Regions from separate parts of the Homo sapiens genome. Here region 1 is linked to region 2. The links come from fine-mapping of genetic effects on gene expression. Tissue or cell type: whole blood. Region 2 holds a variant in brackets; the other region holds the start of a gene. All regions are shown on one strand. Distances are between the middles of the regions.

Region 1 (6,183 bases), 250 kb after region 2:
AAAGCCTCTCTGGGATACTTTCAGGATCCTTGGAGTCAGGGCTCTATACAGGGCTATTTTAAAGTGTGATGGTTCACTGAAAAATGTTGTCAAACAGCAAAGTACCAATCTTTTTGAATCACTAGGTCATATTTTAGAGACTGTGAGTTCTACCCTTGCAGGAACGTGACTTTTTCACACTGTATTTTCTCAAATAGGAGAGAAGAGAATTCCAACCAGTGAGATGAGAATTGCACAAATCCTGCAGCCCATCTCTGCCACAGCTCAAAGTAAGCAACTTTTACTGCTGTATTCTTAAATAGTCCCAAGGATCAAATTATATCTCTGCTAAAACATTGTTAGGCCTAACTTCCTCACCAAGAATGTGGACTTTGGTCCGACTGCCAGGTTAAGAGGGCGTTTCTTGAAAACTTTTGTTTCTTTGTAGGCACAGTATGTGCTTATTAGATATAAAAGCTAATGGATTAACTAATTCCTTTAGCCTTTCCAAAATAGAGGTTTCATGGAACTATCTAGGCCCATAACAAATGTTTCTGTGATGAAACAAACTCAGGAAACTGTATATTTTCTTTTTCCCTTAAAGCTTCACAGAATGCATCATCTCATTAAAAGCTCCAGAAACCCTACAAAGAAGAAACCTTACCTGGTATCCCCCAAACTAAGATTGATAGATTTCCACTGGTTTGTAAAAGAGATTCTTATTCTGAGAAGTTCTCATGGCTCTTAAAAAGAAGTCACCTTCTCATTGTATAGACTTAGACACATAATTTGTACTTTTTTTTCAGATTGTTGGGTAAGTAATGACCCAGACCATTGAAGAAAATGAGGAAACTGTGCACACAGACTGATGTCTTATGTGACCAACATGCATATAAGAAATGGAAGCTTCCCCCTATCTTTCCAGAGTTCAAAAATCCTATTGCTGAATTCACCTCCAATTCCATGAAACAATATAAAAGATCCTCCATAAAGACCCCAGGTTATAATGTTTACAATTTATTTTGTACTCCTTTTCTCTGGTAATTGATGACTGCTATTATTAATGAAGACATTACAAGGAATAAAAGGGCTTGCCTGCCACTTCTCACCACAAAACCGTGTGGCATCAAACAGAATGAAATCCTTCTGACACTGACAGCTGGAGAAAACCTTGTCACCACAGTGACAGTGTCAAGTGTGGTGTGACATCTCTGTGTGTGTTTCTTTTGCACCTAATAACTTCGTTGCCAATACAGACCAAAATAATGAAAGAAAACCTGCTTTTGCCAGCCCAAAGGATTAACTGTACTGTTGAGAAAACTGCAGGAATATTTGACATGAGATCACAATTTTTAATTCTTTTCCCCCCAGGATTCTGCATGAAGTATTTTTCTATGAAGGATTTAAATAGAATTACTTTTCCTCACATTGGTCATGGAGAGAATTAAGACATTAACTGTTGATCCAATTTATACTGCCATTTGATCCCATAAGTGCTATACAGGACTCGGTTACTCATGGAAAATAGTTCCTGCCAGATCAAACACTCTCAGGGCCAAAGTCACAAGATTCTGACTTTACATGCTCTGTTCTGCCTCCTTTCATTTTGCCTCTTGGATTGTCATGAACTTCCTGAGCAAGAAGGCCATCCACCATGCAGTGTAATGTCTTGCTAAGAGAAATTAGTATTCAGTCTGCTCAGGTTCCAGCAAGGACTTTCTTCATGAAGATCTTCAAGTGGAATCAAGGTAGGAACTGTTATCCTTTTCAGTCCTTGTGCTATTCATTCACACCTTGGAACAAAAACAAAGCTGAACTCTTTAGAGGGGAAAATTGATACCGCATGGTTTCTGGTGTATCTGCAACTTTTGGCTCTGGTTTGGAAAAGGGTGTGTATGTGTCATGCACACATGTCTATTTCATCCTATCTGACAAATACCTTTGTGAATTGCTTTGTTGACTATTTGGGTGTTACTGCAGGTTACAAATTTCTAAGAGGGCTGGGAGACGTCTTTAAATCCCATAGGCATTGGATCATGTGTCCTCTAGTGGCCATGAACACTAGTTTTAGATGAAAGGTCTCATTTTCAGATAAGTATGAGGAATACTTTATTTTCAGCCCTCTCTTTTAAGAGGCATAAAATCTTTTAGTGCTGAAAACACTTGTACTACCTATAATAAAGAATTATGTTTAAGTCAGTGTGTTCCTAATTTGACTATGGAATTCAAACTTCTTGTAAGAGTCCACAGACCAGGTAAGACTTAAAGATTTGCCAACATTCAAAACCTCTGAAAAATAACCCATTACTTGGCAGCTAGGTGATCTCCCTCCTAATTTATCTGGCTCTATTTTCTTTTCTCTACCATCACCAATAGCATCTTTCTAATCCCTCACTCGGATCTTCTCATTCCTCCATTCATTAGAATACCAGTTCATTTCTTCAATAAACATGCCAAATAGGAGTGGCTCTAACAAGACGGGAAGTTTTTTCTGATGTGACAGTCTGTATATTTGCAGTCCAGGACTTGAATGGTGACAGCAAGAGGACAGAGGCTCCAGGTTCCTTTTGTTTTAGTGCTCTGCCATGTGTAGGGTGTTTCCCATCCAAATGTTCCAAGATGTCTTACCACTGTGTCTGTATTCCAGGCAATGGGAAGGAGGGAAGGTGAAGGGGAGAGAATTTTCCTTCCTTGCAAGAGCATCATCTGCAAGTTGTGTTTCTGCTCACACCCCATTGACAGAGCTTTATTGCTTGATCACAGCTAGCTGCAAACGAGGCTAGGAGATGTTTTAGTCAGTCTGGTAGCCTTTGTCACACTACAATTTCTATGTTAGAGGAGAGAGAGAGAGAACATATATTAGGGAATAGCTAACCATCTCTGCTACACCTATGACCTTCCATTTGTCTCTTACAATGAGTTTGTGAAGTTAGAATTTTTATCCCAAGTTTTCCACTGAGAAAAATAAAGCTCATAAACCTGAAATAATTTTAATATTGTCACCATGTTAAGAATGATTAAGGGTGTGAAGTTTTGTCTGCTTCCAAGCTAACAAGGGAGCCGCCACAATTGCATGGATTCTTGCAGAAGACACAGATTCCTGAGTCAGACACAGAGGACTTTATCACTCATGGCACAGCAAGCAGCATCAGCTCCAATATTCATGTAGGTTCTTCTTGTCCTCCAAATCCTATGGGGCATTAGGGGGTGGCCAAGGTAGATGCTGCAAACGCAGTCGGTTTGCACCAAAGGTGAAAAACCCCGAGCTTAGGAAACTACAAGCTTTTAAAGAGGCTATAAGGAAACCTGCCCAACTTTTTCCTTAGAAGGAAACCTTTTTTTTAGTATCCTAGTTAAGAAACAAATCTCTCTGCTTGAGAGAGGCACGCTACCTCTAACCTCCAAGAAGTTCACCATACAAATATTCTTGGAAGGCAGTCCCAAATAAAAGTCTCTTTGTTGACAAGGCTTGCAGAAACATGAGACACCCCTGGACATTTTTTTTCCCAACACACAGATAGTCTTGCTATCTTCATTACAATAAAGGTACTTCTTCAAGAAATCTCCCACTGACCATGCCTCCATCATCAGGGCAGTTCTCACTTTTTATTGTAATTGTTCACACCTCTGGATCTCCATATTGGAATATCAGTTCCTTGAAGGCAGGGGCTATGGCTTTGCTTTTATATCCCTAGCACCTAACACATTACTTGGAATATGGAACATGTTCAACAACTATTTTGAATGAAGTATATTAGAATAAGATTTACTTAAGGGATAGAACAAATCAGCAAGCATTACATGTTATTGAATCCACTTGAGGTTCTCTTTGTATGGATCCTAGGGTAGGTGGCTAATTTTTATGATTCAGGCCTCAAATACCACTCCCCTGACCACTGTATTTAAAACATCATTCTAGATAAGTCTAATGATAAGCACTTGTCACTACCTAATATTATTCTGCTTGTTTATTTAGGTATCTGACTCCCCTTCTAGAATAGAAACCCATGACTTCAAGGACTTGCCTATCTAGTTCATGACTATATTTCTATACTCTAAAATAGTGTCGGGCCTAAAATAGAAGTTTCATAGGTATTTTTGAATGAATAAGTGAATGAGTAAATTCAGCAAACATTCACTAAGTTTATACCATCTGCTAGGAACAAAATGTTTTACCATGTCACAGTGGCCCACAAAGAATACTGTTACTTTGGACAACTGAAACAATTCAATATCTGGGTTGAGTTGAGTGGCAGCATCACTTTTGTTGGGGCAGTGAGCTTCCATTCCTCACTACAGATATTCCACTGCTGGCTTGAGCTGGGTCCTGAACACTGTCCTTTCCTGGTCTTGCTGGCGAAGGCATCCTGTGCCAGCAGGCAGCTTCATTGCCTTCCTCTCCTCTCCGAGCCCCTACGTAGCCATCCTGCTTATCAGGTGCACACAGTTCTGGTCAGGTAGCCTCAGGGAGCCCATCTGATTGGCTCTGTGGGTCCCCACACCTCCAAGAACTCCATGCCTTTCATATGATGCTTAACCATTTGTTTATCCTCATTCTTACCTGGGCAGCAGGTAGCTATCAGACCCTCTCTCACCTTTCCTTTACTCTTCTTCCACCTCTACTTGATCTCCTGTAGCAGCCTTGCCCATGAAGTCATGCCTGTGGCTCCACTGAGAAATTCGATTAAGTATTCCAATACTGCTGTGAAACGAAGTGATCTGATTCCGGTGAGACAATTTATCTTGCAAGGTATATCAATACTCATTTTATTCATTATTTACCCATTTCCAAAAATGATGTGAAGTGGGAAAATGTCAATGTTGAACAACAAAAATAGTAAAATCCCTTTGGGGGGAAGATCATTATAATTTGTTTAAATGCTGACAAATATTGATATCAATGGTAAACGTAGAAGTGGGGCATGAGGGAAATTACCAGAGGGAAATGACTAGGATATTTTTCAAGCCATCATTGATTCAAAATGAATTATGAGAGTAGAGCTTTGCATGGAAAATTAAAGGCCTAATACTAAAAATAATTATTAAGCATTTTCTTACTTTTGTAGATGAAGAAGTTACCTCAGAGAAGTCAAATAATTTACCCAGAGTCACAAAATAAGCAAATGATGGAATATTCAAATCCAGGTCTTCTGACTCTACCTCTATCTGCCTTAGAGGTTTCTGAAGTATTGATAAGATGGAGGCTGGAAGAGCTTGAAACAGACCATATAAAGCCAGGTCTGAGCTGGAAAAGCAAAGAGGCCCAAGGAACAGCACAGACCCTGACTGGTGGGGTATCTGTGTATTTTAAATAACAAATACAACAAAGATTCAAGGTTCAGCATGTACCCAGATGTTTCCATTATTGATATATATATGCCAGTTTAAAATATTTAAATGGAAAACAGTTTGTGTCCACTTCATTTTAGAACTATGCCAGTTACAGGAATCACCCCAGTATCAGTTATGTCTTACTCATGTCAAAGAACCAGGGTCAGAAGAAAAAAATCTCCAGTAAAGATCCTTGCAACTCAGGAACACTCTTTCCTCTGAATACTGCTATGAACTAGAGTTAAAAGAAAGCATTTTTTAAAAGAAATGATTTATTCGTTCCTCATGATAAACATATCAAAACATCACATTGTACCACATAAATATATGCAATTATTTGGTTAACTGAAAATAAAATAAAATTTAAAAAGAAATAGAACGAACCTGAGTTAAACCCTGAGTTAAATGACTTTTTAACAAAATTCAATGGATTTAGTTTGAATTCATGTTTGCCCATATAATGAATAGAGTGTTATTTATGACAACATCCAGAAGAACAGATCTCAGGGGTTGGCTTTATTACAGTATGTTAGTTTAAATTAATTTGCCACTATTCCCTACAGTTATTCTTTAGTCTTCCCCTGAAGATTTACACACACACACACACACACACACACACACACACACACACACACCTCCTTCCAGAAATGTAAGAAATATCTTTACCCTCATCCTATCCTATCTTTAAGATGCCAACTTCTAGCTTTGTAAGTAGGAAGGATTAAAACATGAGAAAGAAAAGTAGGCCTAACTTGTCATGAAAATAAAATATATGGTCAAAGCCCATACCAAATAATAATGCCTGTATTTTTCCAGATATGAAGTTCCTCTTTTTTGCTCTTAAATGGGTTGAGAGATTGTGATAGGTAGTGG
Region 2 (8,501 bases):
CCCACCCTCATGACCTCATCTAAACAGAATTACCTCCCAAAAGTCCCACTTCCTAATACCATCACAGTGGGGACAGGGCTTTAACATATGAATTTTGGAGGGATACATACATTCAGTCCATAACACAGAGGAAGTAACTCATCCAAGGCCTCATAGCTAAAAGGTGGTAGAGTTGGAATTGAACCAAGGATTCACACTTGAAAGTCTGTTTTTAACCAGAATGAGTGAGTGAGTGAGTAAGGCACTTATGTTTCCCAAATTTCTTGAAACAGAGTAAAAATGTTGACGAAAAACATATAGCCCATGGGAAACAAATACTACTTGGAAAGGCATAACAGCTTCTCACCTGTTGAGGAGTATTCCATCTTCCTGACCTCCTATTTAAACAAACAAACAAAAAAACCACACCCAGCATCACTCTGTTACTCTGTTATACTGATGTTGAAGGACTTTTGCATACACTTCTGGAAACTGGGACAACTGAGCACTACTGACCTGCCTCAGGGATGTTGTGAGGGGTAATGAAAGTTTGTGGAATGTTTAAGACATGAGTGAAAGACTTTGAAGTAATGCAAATTCTTATAAAATACAAAAGTTATTGCTGGCCCGGCGTGGTGGCTCACACCTGTAATCCCAGCACTTTGGGAGGCTGAGGCGGGCGGATCACGAGGTCAGGAGTTTGAGACCAGCCTGGCCAACATAGTGAAACCTTGTCTCTACTAAAAATACAAAAATCAGCCAAACATGGTGGCACATGCTTGTAATCCCAGCTACTCAGGAGGCTGAGGCAGGAGAATCACTTGAACCTGGGAGGTGGAGGTTGCAGTGAACTGAGATTGCACCACTGCACTCCAGCCTGGGGGACAGAGCGAGACTCCGTCTCAAAAAAAAAAAAAGTTATTGTTTTTATATTGTTATTGTCCCTGGGAATCTTTGCTATCGGTGTACTGTGTACTTCCTGCCTACCTCTGAGTTTGTAAAGTAGGTAAAAGAGCAGATGTGATTGCTAAGAATATAGCATTGACCTCTATGTAAAATTTATAGGTTCTCACACAGAGTGCTGAGGCTTTTGATCAGCATCTTTGAAAGTATTGCTTGTATACATTTCAAGTAAAAGATCATTCTAATTATTTCATAGTCATACTTTACATGAAAGAGCTTTGTAAATAATTGGAAAATCTTTAACAAGCTTTGATTAATAATGCTGGCTTTAATTTTAACTTCATATTATTGTTTTCCAAATGATTTCCATAATAGAGACCATGGTGGATCTAAGCATGAGATTTTAAGTTCCTGCCTTTCAAAGGTGTGGCTAAAAACAAGGAGGATAGAAAACACTGTGTGCTGTCATGCCAAGCTCTCTGTGTAGGGACTTTATCTTCACCATTGCATTTCATCCTCAAAACAGCCCTGCAAGGTAAGTATCTGTATTTTATAGATGGGAAAAACTAAGATTCAGAAAGTTTACATAACTACAAATCTGGTAAGAACTAGAGCCGAGATCCATTTCCTGCTCTGTCTTTTCTCACAGTTGTTGCTACAAGGCCACTGAGCTGACTCACCACCCCGGGAGTCAGTGAAGGCTTCCCCGAGGAAGCAGTGTTTGAGCTGAGCCTTGAAACAGAAGTAAGAAGACTCCAGGTAAATGAGAATAGCAAGTGCATTTCAGGCAAAGGAAAGGAAGTGTGAATGAGCAGGTGTGCCCTGTGAACTAAAGATGGCTGTCCAGGGCAGAGCATGCATTTTACGAGGCTTGCAGGAGACCCAGTATTACAAGTAGGAGATTCAACAGGACCACCAATACTGGGCATGCAGGTGTCGCCATGCAACTGTAGAAACGGGAATGTCTGGTCTCCAAATTCTCATTGATCAGAGAAAATAAGAATGGGGTAATGAAATAATTTTTTCCTGAGGTGTATTCTTAACTTCCAACTAAATTTTCACTGCTGAATCTTCATAGCCAACACTGCACAAGTGTTATTGACACAGTGCATTGGACCCAGAGAATGGAAAAGATGCTAGGCTTTTTTTTTTTTTTTTTTTTTTTTTTTGAGACGGAGTCTCACTCTGTCGCCCAGGCTGGAGTGCAGTGGCGCGATCTCGGCTCACTGCAAGCTCCGCCTCCCGGGTTCACGCCATTCTCCTGCCTCAGCCTTCTGAGTAGCTGGGACAACAGGCCGCCACCACACCCGGCTAATTTTTTGTATTTTTTTAGTAGAGACGGGGTTTCACCGTGTTAGCCAGGATGGTCTCGATCTCCCGACCTTGTGATCCGCCCGCCTCGGCCTCCCAAAGTGCTGGGATTACAGGTGTGAGCCCCCACGCCCGGCCGCTGCCAGGCTTTTTGCCTTCTCCAGGCCGGCATATATTTGGTGCGCATTTAAATCTCCCTTAAACAAAGTGTAGAAAAAAAAGTGCTTTAACAAATTTGAATCAATATATCTTTCACCTGTGCAAGATCTATGAGAATAGAGACTGAAAGTTTTTTCATTATATTAATAAATCACTAGTGCTTAGCGTGAAATAGTTTCTTAATTCTTTTCAACAGATAAACAAATATGTAGATTTTGAAAACATCTTTTAAATTCCTATTAAATATCTCGTTTTAAAAATACATCTGAAATAAATCTTTCCCTACACATATTAAAAAACCTTTTTCTTTTGGGGTTTACAAGTAGTCTCTCCAAGGAACTGGGGCAAAGAAAATTCCAAGGAAGCTACACGTATTAGAAAAATCTTTGTGTTAGTTGAGAACTGTACCATGTAACTTTGTAAGACAATATTTTATTTAATTTTCTTAAACGTTGTTATAAAGGGATGTCACTATAGTGATACTGTTTTAGGTGGATATAATACTTACCTTTACCCTCTTTTTATTGATTTTTAAATATTACACACATTTTAATTAGTGGCAATTTTACAATAATGTGAGGCTCTTAGAAAAGTGTTCATTTTTGCTCATGAGAAATGGGAAATGTGTTGGAGTTTTGGAGTTCCAGTTCAAATAACTGAAGAAAAAAATATATGTATATATGTATATAGTGGCTTCAACTGCATACTTTAATCAGCTTAGGAACAGTTATCCCAAATTTCTTTCTTAACACATAGTATTATTCTTTCCAAAGTGACTAAAACTAAGAATTTTTGAATAACGTTTATTTCTGTGATAAAGTAATTATGTACAAGTTAGAAGTTATGCTAGGGGGCCTGGAAATTCTCGGACAGAAATTCTATTTTCTCATAATTTCATGGCTTTTAAATATGTCGCCATTGCATAGAGTTTTCACAGCAGCTGGTAGAGATGTAATATTAATTTTATTTGCCTAGGGAAGGGAAGGAAGTAGCTGGCCATTGTGTGTATGTGATGTAGTAGGGAAGACTAGGTTACTCTGAAGTAGTTTCGAGCATTAGTACCTTAGGTATTGCATTGAATTATTTAAGAAGGTGGGGAAAGTTCAGAAGAAAATGATTGGAATGATAGTACCAAAATTTCAGTGAGGTATGGTTAGTGGAATTAGAAATATTTATCCTGGACACCATAGGAGAATATAAAACTAGTTTCAAATATTTGGAGAGCTGACAAGTAGAAGATAAATTAAGGAATTGTTTGTATTGTCCTATGGCCTTGAGAAGAAGCTATATGGAGTCTTTTGCCTCAAAATGAGAAAAGCACAAAGATGTCCAAAGAGGCAAAGAGAATTCTCATTCAAGATGGCAGACACAGCACATATCTCCTTTCTACTTTAAATCTCATAGAAATGTCAGCAAAGAAGAACTAAGGGTAATAAATTAAAGACTACTCGGTACAGAAGAAAGGGCATCAGGAACTAGGGATATAGATAAGTTTCTTGAAAGTGGGAATACTTGGAATTGTATTAACAGCTTAAATCACATTCACAGGAGAAGGCTGCAGTAGAGGCTAGAGCTATTTTTCCTGGCAACAGACCCAGAGAGAAGCTCAACACTTGGAGTATGAAAGGAGAGTTGGAAAGAAATCAACTGTGGAATAACTGCGTGAGTCATAGTCCATGTTCTCCTTCCCTGCAT[C/T]ACATGCTCAGGCTAAAACCAGAGGACTAATATTTAAAATAATTGAATAGTCTTCGTGAGAAGGAGCCCTAGTTGGGGTGATGCCTCATCTGAGTAAACTTCTTCCCACTTTTGCTGGGAAGTGGGAGAAGTAGGGAGGGGGACCTCCAACCTCCTCTTCTTTCACTACAAGGTCTAAAGCAAAGGCTGCCAGTGACAGCCACTTGTGTAGACAAGAGAGAGCTGGACAAGGCCGAGCTATCTGCATTGAATGAGGTGACTTACCTCAGTTGTAGGTATGAATCTATAGCCAAGGATTATGAAAACCTGAAGAAAAATGAGGACAAAAGAGCAGGTTGAGAGAAAAAATACCCTGACTCTGGAGGAAATAGATAATTCAGGACATAGAAAATTCTTTATTCTATGTAGTATCCTCATGGAAACAAAGTCGAGAGAAAGCATTTTTAGTGCAAAATTAGATTGCTAAGAAAGAACAACTAAAACAAAATAAATAGTTATTAAAATGAAAAAGTAATTGTTAAAGTTAGAAATTCAAGGGAAGACCTGGGAGAAAAAGTTGAAGAAACTGCTCTAAATGTAGTGCAAAAAGATAAAGGATGGAAAATGTGGGAGAAAAGTGAAGAGATTAGAGAAGCATCCAAAGGGATGTTCAGAAAGAGACAAAACAAAGAATAAGAGAGAATTTTCCATAAGTGAGGAAATAGGACTTGAGATTGTAAGAACCCTAGAGAATGCAAAATAGGATGAATGAACAAACTTAGCCCAAGGCACATTCTTGTGACATTTTAGATATTGAGAATAAAGGGAAGAGTCTAAAAGCCAAAAGAATAGATTACTCAGTGAGAATCCAATTGGTATTAGATAGATCATCAGCAACTGTAAATGCTAAGAAAAACAAAACAAGAAGCATGCCTTCAAAATGTGTAAAATAAAGTTTTTTGAACCTAAAATTCTCTACTTAGCCAAACTATCAATCGATCAAGAGTGAGGCATTTTCAAGCATGCAAGAACTCAGACCATTTACCACCCACAGACTATTTCTGAAAGAATTACTGAAGCAAAACAAAAAAGAATCCAAGTAGGAGGAAGCCATGGCCTCTAAGGAACAGTGGATCTCACCCAAGATTGTAATGAAATATAATTCCAGGATGACAACCTTGAGGCAGGCCTAGAAAGCCATCAGTCTGAATTAGAACCAGAAGTCAGATGCTCTGTGAAGAATCTCTTTCAGGAGGACATGGATTTCTTCTATAAATTGAATGACTGAGAAGCTGAGTGGTCTTGTGACAAGGCAAAGGCATGGTAGGTCATTGTGATAAGGTATCATCCAAACACTCTCCAAACTGTGAAGTAATTTTCTTCTTCCAATAGCAAAGGTTTATTGACAAGAGTTACGTCTCCTCTATAGGCTCAAGGGCACAGCTGTGCTTGGTTCTGCAGTGAACAATGATCTCCCTACGAATATTATGAATGCTACTTTTCAGTTTTCAGTTTAAAAAATCAATTTATAGACAATGCATCAAAGATTAATTGTAGTTATAGGACAAGTGTGAAAACAATAGTACACTGGAATGGAGGTTAGGAGAGAGGGAAGGAGCAAAGGAACAAGATGTAATGATGTTGGATTCTTTTCATCAGAAATAAAAAGAATTAAGAGATATTGTGTCTACATTTGAGAAGTCAAAATAGGGTTTCAAGTATCTTATATAAATTTGTTAATTGTAGTGATATCACACTGAGGCACTATAACATAGTCGTTAAGAGCATGGATCCTGGAGCCAGAACACCTGCGTTTGAATTTTTGCCACACACTTCAATTTGGGCAAATTGCTTATCTGTGCCTTGGTTTTCTCAGCAAAAATTGAAAATAAATAGTTAATATTTCACAAAGTTATTTGAAAATAAAAACAGTTGATATATATAAAGTGCTTAGAACAGTCTTTGGCACATAAAAAATTATTCTATATCATCATATGTTACCGATGATAACGATGATGATGATGATGATGGAAAACAACTAAACATCTGGAGAAAAGGGAACCCTTGTACCCTGCTGGTGGGAAAGTAAATTAGTACATTGATTATGGAAAACAGTCTGGAGGTTCCTCAGAAAATTAAAAATAAATCTACATATTACCCAGAAATGGGATTTCTGGGTATATATGCAAAGAAGATGAGATAAGTATGCCAAAGAGACATCTGCACTTTCATGTTCACTGCAGCATTATTTACAGTATCCAAGAAATGAAATCAATGTAAGTGTCCATCAGTGGATGAATGGGTAAAGAAAATGCGGGGAGGGGGATTAGGAAGATGTTGGTCAAAGGATACAAGGTTTCAGTTAGACAGGAGGAATACATTCAGGAGATCTATTGTACAATATTGTGGCTATAGTTAATAACAATGTTTTATATTCTTGAAAGTTGCTCTAAGAGAATAGGTTTTAAGTGTTGTCACCATAAAAATGTTAAGTATGTGAGCTAATGCATATGTTAATTTGCTCAATTTAGCTATTTCACAATATATACATATTTTAAAACAACATATTGACATGATAAATATATACAATTCTTTGTCAGGTACAAAGTTAAATGAAAATACAACACAAAACATTGAAAAAGTTAAAAAATAAAAATTTAATGGGCAGAGATCGGAAAAGGGAGGTAGTAGCTTGAGAAAATTTATTTTTTCAATTTTTTTAAAATGAGAGATCAACGAATGTTTAAACTTGACAAGTTAGTAAAGAGAGGCATAACCATATTCAGTGTTATGGAAGCAATCTTCAGAGAAATTTCTATTTTGTCCTATTTTAAGGGTTTTTAAAAATTCATATGCAAGCACTACTTTTATTTAGTTTTTACCAATTTTACTGAGGTGTAATTGACATACAATAAACTGCACATATTTAAAGTGAACAGTTTGATACATTTTGGACTTAGGTACACACCCCTGAAACTATCACAGTAATCAAGATGATGAACATAACCACCAACCATCATGCTCTAAAGTTTCTTCATGCACCTTGATAATCTCTTCTTCCTACCTCTTCCCACTCCCCCAATCTCAGGCAACCACCGTTCTGCTTATGTGACAATAAATTGGCTTGCATTTCCTAGAATTTTATATCAATGAAATCATATAGTATGTACTCTTACATCTGACTTCTTTCATTCAGCATAATTATTTTGAGATTATTCACACTATACTGTGTAACAATACATTCATTCTGTGGATAAACCACAATTAACAAATTTACTTGTTGATGGAAATCTGGTTTTTGTTTTGCTTTTTCCAGTTTTTGGCTATTACAAATAGAACTGCTGTGATCCTTCATGTACAAGTCTTGGTATGGGCTGGGATTTCATTTCTTTGGGATAAATACTTAGAAGTGGAATGGCTGGATTATATGATAGGCATATGTTTAAATTTTTAAGAAACTGTCAAACTGTTTTCCAAAGTGTTTTACAGTATATGAGAATTCCAGTTTCTCCACATCCTTATCTTGGCAGTCAACTCTATCAGCCATTCTGACAGCTATGTTGTGGTATCTTATTGCAGTCTTATTTTACATTTCCTTGGTGACTATTTATATTGACTATCTTCTCATGTTTTTGTTTGTCATCTGTATATCTTTATGGAAAAGTATCTGTTCAGATATTTTGGTCGTTTAAAAAATTGTTTTTTTTTCTTTTTATTGAGATTTCAGTTTTCTTTATGTATTTTGGATACAAAGCTTTCATTAAAGATATGATTTACAAATGTTTTCTTCCAATCTGTAGCTTGACTTTTTATTCTTTTAACAGTGCCTTCTGAAGAATAGAAATTTTTTATTTTGGTGAGGCTCAATCTTTACCTTTTTTCCTTTCATGGATTATGCTTGGGTGTTATGTTTACCAAATATTTGCATAACCTATGATCACAAAGATTTTCTATTGGGTTTAGTGTTAGGTTTTGTATTGAAGTCTGTGATCAGTTTAAAGCTAATCCTTGTGTGTGGTTGAAACAAAATTAATTTTTTTTGCATACATGTATTCAATTGTTCCAATGCCATTTGTTGAATCTCTCCTTTCTTCACCAAATTGCCTTTGTACTTTTGCCAAACATCAGTTGCTGAAATATGTGTTGGTCTATTTATGGACTCTATTTTGTTCCATTGATATATTTGTTTATCTTGATTCTAATATCAGACTGTATTGATTAGTCTTATAATAAGCCTTGAAAGTACACAGTTAGTTCTCCAACTTTGCTTTTCTTTGTCAAAATTGTTTTGGCTCTTTTTTTTTTTTTTTTTTTTTTTTTGAGATGGAGTCTTGCTCTGTTTCCCAGGCTGGAATGCTGTGGCGCAATCTCAGCTCACTGCAGCCTCTGCCTCCTGGGTTCCAGCAATTCTCCTGTCTCAGCCTCCCTAGTAGCTGGGATTACAGGCGTAAGCCACCATGCCTGGCTAATTGTGT

The links. PIP is the estimated chance that this variant, and not a neighbour inherited with it, causes the effect. A credible set is the group of variants that fine-mapping cannot tell apart.
Region 1: LINC01479 starts here. The variant in region 2 is the best candidate, but not a certain one, in a credible set for the expression of LINC01479 in whole blood (TOPMed, PIP 0.62).

Annotation. Positions count from the first base shown.
Region 1 is chr12:67,927,661-67,933,843 of GRCh38, forward strand. LINC01479 (long intergenic non-protein coding RNA 1479) reads left to right here and starts at 1,575. Exons shown (of 3, transcript NR_120456.1): 1 at 1,575-1,727; 2 at 4,617-4,729.
Region 2 is chr12:67,677,332-67,685,832 of GRCh38, forward strand. It overlaps LOC105369816 (a long non-coding RNA gene), which reads left to right. Exons shown (of 3, transcript XR_945052.3): 1 at 1-1,417; 2 at 1,532-1,641; 3 at 3,901-7,819. Among named protein-coding and RNA genes, the nearest start is that of DYRK2, 33 kb to the left of the region's middle. The variant C/T (reference allele first, on the strand shown) is at 4,048.